Regions from separate parts of the Homo sapiens genome. Here regions 2, 3 and 4 are each reported to be linked to region 1. Evidence: microRNA targets listed by miRTarBase, many of them from high-throughput screens and not tested one by one. Region 1 holds a microRNA gene; each other region holds the end of a gene's coding sequence.

Region 1 (3,000 bases):
AAGATTATGAACAGCACATTCCAAAGGCCATACTCCTTTTACAAACCTCTATCATTTACAAAATAGGAAGCCCTGGACACTGACACTACCAATAAGGAATTCTAGCCAATACTAGATGTCTGAGATGCTACACTCAAGGAAGTCCAATAAGGAATTCTAGTCAATACCAGATGTCTGAGATGCTGCACTCAAGGAAGTCTACAGATCTCTTGTCAAGGAGCAGAGGAAGAATGGAGAAGAGGAAAAGGTCCCCAGGAATTACAGAGCTCATTTCTAAGGGGCTCAAAATTAGCAAAGAGACTTTTGGAGATATTTTCTGAGCTTTAGGGATCTTATTTCTGCCTCACACTGGTCTCTATTCACCCAGAAGAGATAATGAGGCTCCCAGTAGAGTCAGTTATCTGTCTCTATTCTATACAGAGATAACAAATGTTCCCAAAAAGCAAAAGAGTCTTACATCATCAAAATCATCATAATAATTCCTGTATCTGAGAATCTCAACAGCACTGCTGGGAGTAATTAAAAAGGATATCCTCTGCTCTCCCAAAAACAGACAATATTTAAGATAGACAACCTTAAGCCCAATCCTCTGTACAAATGCCCCAGGATTCTTGATCTGAGTACTGTAAGGACCCTTCATCTTAATTTTAAATCTCTGAGTGAAGAATTATCATATATAAAAATGTGCTGATGAACATAAAAATCCCTCTCCCATGTTGCCTTTCTGTAGAGATTATCAGGCCTCTTTCTACCTTCCAAGGCTCAGAAGGTAGAATGAGGCCTGACATATCTGCAGGAAAAAAAAGGAGAGAGATTTATGTTTGTAAGAAATTCAAGTAAACAGTGACTTTGAAGCTCCTCCTTGGGATAAAAAAAATAAGCAGAGTGACCCAAACAAGCAATGATATTAAAACCTAAATCTCTAAGACAATCTGAGGCTGTCAGATCAAGCCAAATAGCTCAGGAGGAAGAGGGGAGGAGGGTGAAAGAGAAGGAGAGAATTATTTACCACTCAGCGAGCTGGCACACTCTGCTGTGTGCTTTACCCTTCTTGATCAGTTCACTGAATCCTCACAATAAAACGACCACGCAGTTGCTACTTATGCCCATTTTAGAGACGATGAAGCTGAGGTTCAAAAGGTTAAGTAACGTGTGCAAGGATCTATAAAGAATAAGCATCATGCCGGGCACAGTGGCTCATGCCTGTAATCCCAACACTTTGGGAGGCTGAGACAGGAGGATCACCTGAGGACAGGAGTTTGAGACCAGCCTGGCCAACATGGTGAAACCCCATCTCTACTAAAAAATACAAAAATTAGCCAGGCATGGTGGCGCACGCCTGTAATCCCAGCTACTCAGGAGGCTGAGGCACAAAAATCACTTAAACCCAGGAGGCGGAGGCTGCATGAGCCAAGATTGCGCCACTGTACTCCAGCCTGGGCAACAGAGCAAGACTCCACATCAAAAAAAAAAAGAAAGAAAAAGAAAAAGAAAGAAAGAAAGAAAAGAAAAACAGTAAGCGTCAAGGAGATTCAAGTCCAGAGATGACTCCAGAGCCTTTCTCCTAACTCTGCACCATGATGGCAAAATCCACAGTGTGGCTCAGTGTTCAAGTCACAGCGGTTACATGTAACAAACGGTATTCCATAAATGAAAAATCCAAGAGAATACGGATGATCTGTGAAATGCAGATTCTGACTGCAAAGTCCTAAGAGAAGCCAAAACAACAAGTCCTCAGGAAGAAATTCTGAACTTAATTCTTTTCAGGGGCTTATGCACTTCATTCAACATTTATTCAGGGATTACTATGAACTGCACACTGAGGCCAAGAGGCTCAGCCCTTAATATTTACATTCTGGAGGGAACAGAAGATGGATGAGAGTCCCACCACGCAGCGCCATGACTAAGGTGGGGAAAATGTAATGGGTATAAATGGAGGAGTGAGTTGATTTTGCTTGGCAAAATCATACAAAAGACGTAACAAGGTCAAAGTCAAAGCTGATCTCTGAAGGACACAGAGTTCATCAGGAAGAGAATGAGATCATTTCCACGGATGTCCAAAGAAGAAATGCAAAGGCCTGCAGCTGTGAGATGCAGCAGGATAAAGGAATCACAAACTATCCCCCATGGTTCTAACATGGCAAATGGAATTCGGGGATGCCTGCAGCCAGGTCTCATGTCCTGCCAGGGTTAGGTTTGGCTTACTGAAGTTTTATGTAGCCAGTGACACAGTCAGATCAGTGCTGATGAAAGTCACGTGGCTCCAGTGTGATGGATGGATTAAAAAGCCAGCACAGCGCACCGTTCTGCATCTGGCTCCCCTGTGCCTCCCACTTATCACCAATCCAACAACCTCTTAACCACAATTTAAAAATCCAAAAAGCTCTAATAACAAAAAGGTTGCTTTTCTAAGTTGGGAGACATACTTACCTCGAAGTAGAATCTGACTTACAAAGCTGTTTGTATTCTTAATTTTTCTTTTGTTTTCTTTTTTTTTTTTTTAAAGACAAGAGTCTTGCTCTGTCACCCAGGCTGGAGTGCAGGGGCATGATCTTGGCTCACCACAACCTCCACCTCCCGGGTTCAAGCAACTCTCCTACCTCAGCCTCCCAAGTAGCTGGTTCTACAGGCACGCACCACCACACCTGCCTAATTTTTGTATTTTTAGTGGAGATGGGGTTTTGCCATGTTGGCCAGGCTGGTCTTAAATTCCTGGCCTCAGGTGATCTGCCTGCCTCGGCCTCCGAAAGTACTGGGATTACAGGCATGAGCCACTGTGCCTGGCCTAATTTTTCCATTTCTGTGACTAAGCATACTTTATTGTAGAACTAATTACATGTGTGTGGCTCTAGGGTGCTGGAGATATACCATAAAATACAGTGGATAAACTGTATTGTCTTTCTAAAATTCTGAAACACTTTTGGGCACAAGGGGTAAAAGATTGTGAACTTGTAGAAATCATTCCATATCAATACATAAAGAGCTTTTGCACTTTCTTTT
Region 2 (3,190 bases), not on the chromosome of region 1:
TGGGGCAGCTCCGAGCCGTTCTCTGTGCTCGGCTTTTCCAGCTGTGCGGTGGGAGCTGGGGATGTGGCGTGGGCGTGGGAGGCCGCTGGAGTCAGGCGTGGGGAGAGTGGGGGACTATCCAGTGACCCTCTCAATGGGCGCCGGCTCCGTCTCGGCTCCCGGGTTCAGGGACTGCACGTTTCTGAGACCGAGTTTAGGGCTCCAAGGCTCTCTTCCCAAAGAGGGTTTGGGGCCAGCAGGATTGGGTTTTCTGAAGAGGCCTGGTTATGCCAGACTTGGCTTTGGCGGCCGCTGGCGGGTCTCCCTCAGCACCCCCTCTTCTTTCCCCGGCTATAAGAAAGCTAGACCAGGGTGCGCATTCTTCCCGTGCCTAGGATACTTCACGGTGCTAAAAATAGTCCTGGGAGCTGGGACCTGTGTATAGCCAGAGGTTTGTGTGTGAGCGAAGTTGGAGTCCTGGGTTCGAATCTAGATAAGCTTCCCTCCGTGCTGTGGGGCTTAGATCACCTCCCTCCCTGAGTCTGTTTCTCCATGCGCGCCGGAATTTCTAAACGGACTCCCAGAAAGAAACGGAAAGAAAGAAGGTAAAGAAAAGAAAAACAAAACAACAAGAAAGAAACTTTGATTTTTCTCTCTGCTCCTCCCCAAGGGCCCTGGGGCCTCGGGCCGGGTACTGAGGCCGAGGAAGGGGTGCGTCGGACAGGCTCATTACCGCCAAGTGTTGCCCTAGTTAAATCGCGGGCCTGTTTGATCTGGCGGCGGGTGGCGAGAGGGAAAAAAGAAAAAAGTAGGGGGGCGAGAGTAGAGAGAGAAGCTCACACCTCCCCCACTGTTTCCTAGCGCCCATAAAACACCTTTTATTAACTCCTTCGCGTCCGGAAAGGCCCGCGTGGCCTCTCGGCCCCTGCTACGGTGTTTACAGCCAAGACTAATGGGGTCCCATATTCACCCCGACGCTGGGACAAGGCGCCTGGGGCACGCCTGGTGCCCCACGAGGCCCTGCCCCGGAGCTGCCTGAGGTCTCCTTTCTTGTTCCCAAGCCGAGCGCTCAGGCTCCAGGTGCGCAGAGCGAAAGTTCCAAGACAGCCTCACGGGTCTCCCCTCCTCCTTCGCAGTGAGCGCCGCAGACCCTCAGGCGCTGCAGAGCGTGCGCTCCGTGGGGCAACCATGGGAGCTGTTGGGAGACACAGAAGTGCTTAGCGCAGTGCCTAGCACACAGTTGCACGCAACCAAAGTATTCGTACATTATTATTCCTGGAAGTATAAACCACTGCGTTTGCCCGCCCCAGTTTAGCCCAATACGCATCCAAGATCCTTGGCAAATGCACCGAATTTATACCCACCACACCTAGTCATGGGTGCGCATGAGAGAACACAAAGACTGGCTCTCCTGCACAAGTGCCCGAATGAGCACGCATACACACATACACCCCATCCCTTTGCACAAATCCATATGCTCTCACAACCTTCTGTCGAGTGCTTCGTTGCTAAAGAGAAACCTAAATACCTCAATTTAACATATAAGCACTCACAAGCTTATTTTACTCAGGTATAAAATAATAATAGCTGCTGTGACTTGTCAAGTCCTTACTGTGTGCTTGGAGCTGTACTAAGCAGACCCTTGTTGGCCCCTGCACAGCCTCAGGCTCCGTATGAGTTGCTGCACTGTCACATGTACATCTATATGTTGAGAATTTCACATACATGAACATATTCCCCACCAACACCCCCTCTCCTGAGCTACCCTGCCCCAGGGATAGGATTCACCTGTGTGCTAGGCCCCCTTCCCTCCCAATAAACACTCCAAACCACTCTTTGCAGACACCAGTGGGCATACTAACCTCCAGACAAGCACGAATACTCAACGCACAAAAACCCGAGCCCAGGCCCTCTGAGACTAATTCGTTTCCGTTTTTGTTCTTCCCCGTTCCCATAAGTTACCCCCACCTCCCGTTCTAGTCTAAAGAGAACTTTGCTCTTGTTCTTGAAATACATTCTTTATCTGCCGGCTTCCCTTGATTTCAAGTTTGGTTTCGTGTTTATCAAAAGAAGAGGAGCAGGAACAGAGGCTTTCCACCTAGCAGAAGCCATGGGAGTCGGTGAGGGACCCCGGTTGAGACATGACACAGGCTTCAGATGATTTCAGAAAATGTTTTATTAATCAAGAGCATAGACACTGCTTTGGCGAAGGGAGGGGGGCTGTGAGTGGTCACACAGACTTGAGGTAGAAAAGGGTTGGGGATGGCAGGATGAACAAACACCTGAGCACAACAGGCATGGTAGGTAGTTTAAATACATAAAAACTTTCCAACACAGGGAAAGCTTTTATTTAGATAGAAACAAAAAGGAAGGAAAAGAAGGAAGAAAAGAGAGAGACAGAGAAAGAGAGAAAGTGTTTCCCTTGGAACTAAACAGGAAGTGCAGCGACAAAAAGAAAAATAAAATAAAACCACCACGATTCGAAGAACAAAGGGCAGCCTTTCATCTTCCTGCGTCTGGTTCTCTTTCTCAGGCAGAAAAGAATTGATTCCTTATTGCATTTTAATTAGAGAAGACGGCGTCGGGGCGGATCATATGGAGGGACAAGAGAGAAAGAGCCAGATAGGGAAATGGAGATAGGGCTGAGGTTCTAAATTCGCTCCAAAAGGGTGGAAGAGTGCGTCTTTGAGCCCTTGGGTTCGACAGTCCCTCCTTCTTGCATGTTGCCGCCAAGGGCCGCCCTCGGTTGGGCTGGGGGTGGATATATATATATTTCTCTTTCTCTTAATGTATTAAAAAAAATCAAAGGACATTGCACGTGCGATCCAAGTGTGTGGTTGCAGCCGACGACCTGCCGGCGCTCAGCAGAAGCTCCGCGGGATGCGTAGCACCAGTCGCCGGAGCCCAGAGCCTGGCGTTCGCCGCTGCCTTCCTCTCCTCCCGGGGCTTCAGGAGTGGCTGGCCTGGCCAGGTCCTCGGCGCGGGCCTCGGCTCACTGGTTTAACTCCAGCGCCCAGACTTGCTGCGGCCAGCCGGTGCGTCCTTTAATCCTCTTCTCGACTGGGCCCAGGGCAGGAGGAAAACCTTCGTGCTGCTGCTGCCAAAGGACACACAGAAGAAAAGAGGCGGGAGAGACAGGTTTTAATTTTTCTGCTCCGATCGCCCGGCATGGGGTAAGATGAGGAGGAGGGGAAGGTGTCGGGAGCAGTAA
Region 3 (3,190 bases), not on the chromosome of region 1:
CATGTTTTGTGACATGCAGCACTTTAATACTGCATTCGGATTACTTTGGGGTTACTGACTTACATCCAAATGACCAAGTGATTCCTCCCAAGTCTGGCCCAAAGCCAATTTCCTTTTTCTACTCCTGGAACCTCTGGAAACTAATCTCACAGTGTTGGAGTAGCTATTTTGCCATGGCTCTCAATCAAGAATGATTTAAAGTATGAATGGATATCTTGTTTTATTTTACCAGACAGAAATCTCAAATTACCAGTCACCTGGAAACTTCATTTACATTGTTTTTCCTCTTGAATATCTACTAGCAACTCCAGTAGAGTTTGGGAAACATGGTAGGAATGCTAACAAACTACCCCAAACTTTGGTGGTCTAAAACATTTTTGTTCGTAGATCTGCAATTTGGTCAGGGCGTAACAGGAATAGCTCACTTTGCTCCACCTGGGATCAGCTGGGATGGCTCAAAGACCAGAGACTAGAATAATCTGAAGGCTGCCTCACTCACATGCCTGATGGTTGATACTGGCTGTTGAATGAGCTCTCAGCTGAGGCCTTAGCTATAATGCCTACATGTGGTTTCCTCATGTAGTCAGGGCTTCCTCAGAACATGGTGGCTGAATTCCAAGAGTAAGCATCCTAAGAGGAAGAGGTGGGCAAAAGCTGTATTGTCTTTTCTAACCTAGCCTTATCCAAAATAATAAATACTAAGAATGAGTCACTAAGGTGGGCCTTTATTCAAAGAGAGGGGAATTAGACTATCATTTGATGGGAAGGTCAAAGAATTTGTGGACATGTTCTACCACATACAGAATCAGAAGTTATTCCATAACTTCTCTCCTTCAGCCTCTTTGATTGCCAATTATTTCCTAGACTGCTTAACTACCTCTCCTGCCCCACCATGATGGAACTGGTATGCCTCATAAAACACCTGAAGTTGCTCAAGGCTATGATGTGAAATAAGCACCCAGTACACCCTCCACCAACTTCCTCCCACTTTGTTTCTGCTTATTTATTTTTTTTGATGTCGTACATACCATATCCCCTTTAGCTTTTTCAAAATAAGCAATATATTGGCCAGGCGTGGTAGTGCATGCCTGTAATCCCAGCACTTTGGGAGGCCGAGGTGGTTGAGTCACTTGAGGCCAAGAGTTCAAGACCAGCCTGGACAACATGGTGAAACCCCATCTCTACTAAAAAAAATAAAATAAAAAATTAGCTGGGTGCAGTAGCATGCCTGTAGTTCCTGCTGCTCAGGAGACTGAAGCACAAGAATCGCAGGAACCCAGGAAGTGGAGGTTGCAGTGAGCTGAGATCGCACCATTGCACTCCAACCTGGGCAAGAGAGCGAGACTCACACAGTATAGTATGTTAAAATGAACCTTGGAAAAGATTAAGATATGTTCACGGGCTGGTTCAATTTTACTAATAATACACATTACAGACCTATTACACCCTGCTCCTGGGGGTGAGGGAGTTGGATTGAATCTCTAGTAAAGAACTAAACTTTCTGGGGGAATAATGAAACCATACCTTATAAAGTCTAATGCTCCTCTTCTACCTAAGCCAGCTGAATGTGCCCAGACAATGCAACATTCTTTGCTACTTATACAGAATCAAAATGTGTGAAACACCCCAGTTTCCAGGACTTAGTAGGTCACCATCTATTAGATCACAGTGTAGAGTCTTTAAAAAGAATCATACTAAGTCTCTGATTCTATAATTGCCCATAGGTGTTTGTTTGTACTGAATTTTAGGTATAATCAAAAGAACTTACTTAAGAGTACGGTGGGGAGGGAAAGGAGGAGATGCTGCACTGCTGAACACCAGCTTTGAGGAGCTGAAATAATGATGCCTGTTGCCTAGCAACCTTTTTTTTTTTTTTTTTTTTTTTTTTTTGAGACGGAGTCTCGCTCTGTTGCCCAGGCTGGAGTGCAATGGCACGATCTCGGCTCACTGCAAGCTCCACCTCCCGGGTTCACGCCATTCTCCTGCCTCAGCCTCCCGAGTAGCTGGGACTACAGACGCCCGCCACTACGCCTGGCTAATTTTTTTGTAGTTTTAGTAGAGACGGTGTTTCACCGTGTTAGCCAGGATGGTCTCGATCTCCTGACCTCGTGATCTGCCCATCTCGGCCTCCCAAAGTGCTGGGATTACAGGCGTAAGCTACCGCGCCCGGCCTGCAACCTTTACTCTTAAGGCACACTTGCCTGCTTGAAAGAGAGATCCTTTTCAACAGCTGTAATGCAAACATGAACCTAGTGAGTCAGCTGGGTAATGGGGTAACAAAGGTAGGGAACCAAATGACTTTCCACTAACTGAAATCAGAGCATCTCCTCCAAAAGATTAATTAAAAGACAATGAACACCCAAATCAAGCTGAAGTTTTATTTAAAATGTAAAAGAAATGTTCCCCCAAAATGCTGGTGAATAAAGCAAAAGGATACCATACAGTGCTCTCTTCCTACGAGTTAGCCAGCCTATCCAAGTACAGGGCGATATACAGTACTTAATGCTGGTAGAATTTCACAGTAGTTTAGTGTTAAAGATTATCTGTGCCTAGATTATGAAGAGATTCTCAGTGTGTGATGTTTAGTTCAGGGTTTACATCTTACTGGGCATGAACAAGAGCCCCTGCTCCTTGGCCATAGCCAAATCCCTTGGGCCCAAAGTTCTTTGCATAGCATCCTACAAAGGAAAGGGAGGAAGGATAGTTAGTGCAAGTCCATTAAGCTTTGCTAGCACTGCTTAAGACCCACTCAACAAACCCCCATAAATTAAACTGCTGTGTAAAAGAGCTCAACTTATTTAAGATGTTAAATGTGTCATGTACTAAATATCTTAAAGCTGCAAAGACAAGTCCACACATTCTGGCCCTATAGTGTTCAGCGTGGTCCTGCTGAGTTGCAAGCATGAGTCAGGCCAGGTAAGGTATGTATTTGTCTGTTTTCTTCCATATACTTACGCTTTGCTCAAGACATGAAGGCAAAAGATGGCTATTTGTGGTGTTTTTATCTGGTGGGGAGTTTTAAATGATCAGGAACTTAACTGTGGTTCTCTGTCATCTATAAGCATCTTGGGATATTTTATTTTCAGAAAATAGTGGCATACTTTTCTTTTTTTTTTTTTAATGCCAGTGACATTTCATTAAACAAGAACCAGTGTGGAATATTCATATGGACAGCAGTAACTGAAATGAA
Region 4 (3,190 bases), not on the chromosome of region 1:
TTTAAAGCACCTACCTCAGTGACTGGCATGTAGCAGGTACAAAATAAATGTTAGCTTTAAAAGGTATTTTAATCAATTTTATTATTCCCAGGGCTTCAGCAGACAGTAAGTTTTTCCCTTTACACTCCTTTTATTTTTTTTAATCTGACTTAATATTAAATGCTATATTTATAGGAGGCATTTTATGTTTAATTTAAAAGTAAAAGATGCAGAAATGATTCTTGTAAGTTTGCTGTAGTTTGGTAATACCATTTCTTTGCTTTTAAATAACTAAACCCCAATATCAATCTGCTTGTCCTCCATTTCACCCCCAACAGGGTGTATACATGGGCTGGTTAACAGCATCTGGAAGTGGAGCCCGGATTCTTGGGCCTATGTTCATCAGCCAAGTGTATGCTCACTGGGGACCACGATGGGCATTCAGCCTGGTGTGTGGAATAATAGTGCTCACCATCACCCTCCTGGGAGTGGTTTACAAAAGACTCATTGCTCTTTCTGTAAGATATGGGAGGATTCAGGAATAAACTAGCTAAGACTGTGATGGAAACTACTTGCTGTGTGGCACTTCCTGGTCTAAAGCTCTGCTAGACAATTGCGGTGAGCCAGTCTCCAAGAATCAGACTACAGATATTGCAGATTTTGAAGAACAAGAACATATGTTGAATAACAGAGAGAATTCTACATGTCATTGTGAATAGTAGGTTATATAAAAACATACTAGATGATAATTTCCTTACCTCAGAAATGAAATATTATTCTTATAATACCTTTTTGTGGTTGCATGAACTAATGAGTGAATGGACAATGATGAATAAATGTGAAGCTGTATTCTTAATACCCACTGCAGAAGTGTCATTAAAATAATATACAGTGGAACCAGAAAGAGGGTTCTGTAAGAATTAGCCATAGCAGAACAAAATTATAGAATTTTAAATACCTCTACCCAAGTAGAGGTATTTTTATTCAGACACCTACTTTTTATTTATAAAAAAATGCATTTTCTATTATCAAGTTCACTTATGAAATAAAAATTATAACACATATTTTCCATTTAGCGTGCCTAACATCCTACCTTGCCTTCTATGAGTCTTTCTTCTAATACTACACCTCTGCCTTATTTTAGTTCAGGGTTTCACTAAGTAACCCCTACATTAATAAATGAGTATGGATAATGCTAATATTTGAGCAATACAGAGGATTAAGAGATCAAGATACTTCACTGCCTATTAGCCTAATAGGGATACCTACTTTCTTTCAAATGCCAAAAATTCACATTAGAAACATAATCCAGATATGTGTTATTTTATATATATATATACAAAACAGTAAATGGTTTCTTAAAATTATTGCTATTTTTCAACCCCCTTAAACTGGAGAAAAACATTTAATTAGTAAAACATTAATTAATTTACTTTAATTTTTCCCATCTCTCAGTAGTGGCGGGGAGGAACACAACAGTTTTCAATCTATGTCTGCATAGTTGTGTAGAGCTGCAGAATTTTAGTTGGATTTTTAATTTGGATGATCCCTGACAGCCCCAAACTAGTCAGGCTAATAAGTATTTGAGGCAAAATGGCTTTAATCTAACAATTTACTGAGTTTACCTGAAGTTGGCTAAATAACACTGTATGTTTAACTTCTACCTCTACATAAGTTGAATGCTGATAAAAGGAACTAGTAGATAACTATGTATATTGATAAGCACTGTTAAGAAAATGCAAAAATATTTCTAAACACTTTTCCAAATGTTTTCTACTTTAAGTTAGAAATAGTTTCAAATCTGAGAATAAACACTATATAATCTGCACTTTATAGGTTGGGTGCAGTGTCTCATGCCTGTAATCCCAGCACTTTGGAAGGCCAAGGCAGGAGGATTGCTTGAGGCCAGGAATTCAAGACCAGCCTGGGAAACAAAGTGAGACCCTGTCTTTACAAAAAATAAAAACAAAAATTTAAAACTGTATAATCTGCACTTTATGCTAAACTAGCTGTGCTCTTAAACTCAATTTTTTCAGCTCTAATAAAGGGCTTAATTTGATAGAATTATTCTACGATTAAATTTTGAAGACTGTTTTCACTCTCCTCTGCCGCCCATAGCAAGACTGCTTCCATAGATTTCTCAGAACCGTAGCCAGTTCTGGCTATTTGGTCAAGTCTGGGATCCCTCTTACCTGCTATTCTGCAGCTGCTTTCTCTGTCTTACATTTTTTGGGCCACGTCTAATCTTAAAGAGTAAACTCTACCCTTGGTTTGCATAGTGTGCATGACAAAAATAACAAGAATAATGGTAATGATGAAAATGATAAGAGCAAAATTTGTGGAGTGCTTTCCACATTCCAGGTAATGTGTAACATACAATTTAATTCTTACAGCAGTCTTATGGAGTGAAAATACTATTATGATTCCCGTTTTACAGATGAAAGAATGGAGGCACAGAAAAGTTACTTGTCTAAGTAACAGTCTATCCTTAAAGTCCACAGTCTTAACCACTTGATTTTTCATAGTGAGGAAAATATCCCAGAAAGTTGCAGTTTCAATTAATCACTAATTGTAGGGTAATTTAACTATACCAGTGAGTCCTACTAGCAGAAATATTTGGGCAACATAAGCCCACTGACTGGAGCTTTTGTCTTAGCATAATAACCTGTTTCCAGCAAGAATATAACAGAAAAAAGTTTCCCAGCTTTCAAAGGTTTATAATATTGATTAAAATTTAGATAAACTTAACCTTACACAAATGACTCTTACTTTCCTTTTTATTGAGAGCATTTTCTTTGGAGCATTTTCTTCTTTGGAGGATTATACCTTGCTCATCTTGGCACAAAAGAAGGCGAAAGGAAGTAACATGGGATTGGGAAAAGAGCAAGGAGATAAAGTTTGAGGAAAAAAAATCACCATGTTGATGTCTTCTTGAGTAGGCCAAGTTGCGTATAAAGAGAAAATGACAACAGGAGATTTTAAGGTATGATATATTGTTAAGAGTAGTACATATTTAAGAAGAGAAAATATGTTTTTGAAAACAAATTTAAACTTGAAAGGATGATTTTCATATTTTGAAGGGATTTATAACTTCACAAAGCATCTCCATTCTATCTTGTTCAGCTTTACATTTAAAAATAAACTCTTCTTGTTCATATAAACCTTATCTCTTACATAAAGTGAAATCTGTTAATTTTTTGTTTTGACAAGG

What was found. Region 1 holds the annotated microRNA hsa-miR-4650-3p (AGGUAGAAUGAGGCCUGACAU, at 768-788, shown strand). A microRNA usually pairs through its seed, bases 2 to 8, with sites in the 3' UTR of a target mRNA and lowers its output. Matches are read on the target gene's strand: a 7mer-m8 pairs with bases 2 to 8, a 7mer-A1 pairs with bases 2 to 7 and ends in A, and an 8mer does both.
Region 2: the mRNA of HAND1 is a reported target of hsa-miR-4650-3p. Seed matches in the 3' UTR shown: 7mer-m8 at 2,224-2,230.
Region 3: miRTarBase lists CSRP2 as a target of hsa-miR-4650-3p. Seed matches in the 3' UTR shown: 8mer at 2,507-2,514.
Region 4: the mRNA of MFSD8 is a reported target of hsa-miR-4650-3p. Seed matches in the 3' UTR shown: 7mer-m8 at 1,638-1,644.

The regions. Positions count from the first base shown.
Region 1 is chr7:67,112,120-67,115,119 of GRCh38, reverse strand. It overlaps MIR4650-1 (microRNA 4650-1), which reads left to right and starts at 723; the gene lies at 723-798. The region is part of intron 12 of TYW1 (tRNA-yW synthesizing protein 1 homolog); the gene reads right to left. The region is part of intron 1 of LOC124901664 (a long non-coding RNA gene); the gene reads left to right.
Region 2 is chr5:154,472,835-154,476,024 of GRCh38, forward strand. HAND1 (heart and neural crest derivatives expressed 1) reads right to left here. Exons shown (of 2, transcript NM_004821.3): 2 at 2,138-3,076. The coding sequence ends at 2,972. Among named protein-coding and RNA genes, the nearest start is that of HAND1, 3.8 kb to the right of the region's middle. RefSeq lists enhancers at 1-570, 571-1,542 and a silencer at 2,871-3,058.
Region 3 is chr12:76,856,351-76,859,540 of GRCh38, forward strand. It overlaps CSRP2 (cysteine and glycine rich protein 2), which reads right to left. Exons shown (of 6, transcript NM_001321.3): 6 at 2,359-2,678. The coding sequence ends at 2,602. Among named protein-coding and RNA genes, the nearest start is that of CSRP2, 21 kb to the right of the region's middle.
Region 4 is chr4:127,917,964-127,921,153 of GRCh38, reverse strand. MFSD8 (major facilitator superfamily domain containing 8) reads left to right here. Exons shown (of 12, transcript NM_001371596.2): 12 at 318-3,190. The coding sequence ends at 524. Among named protein-coding and RNA genes, the nearest start is that of PLK4, 39 kb to the right of the region's middle.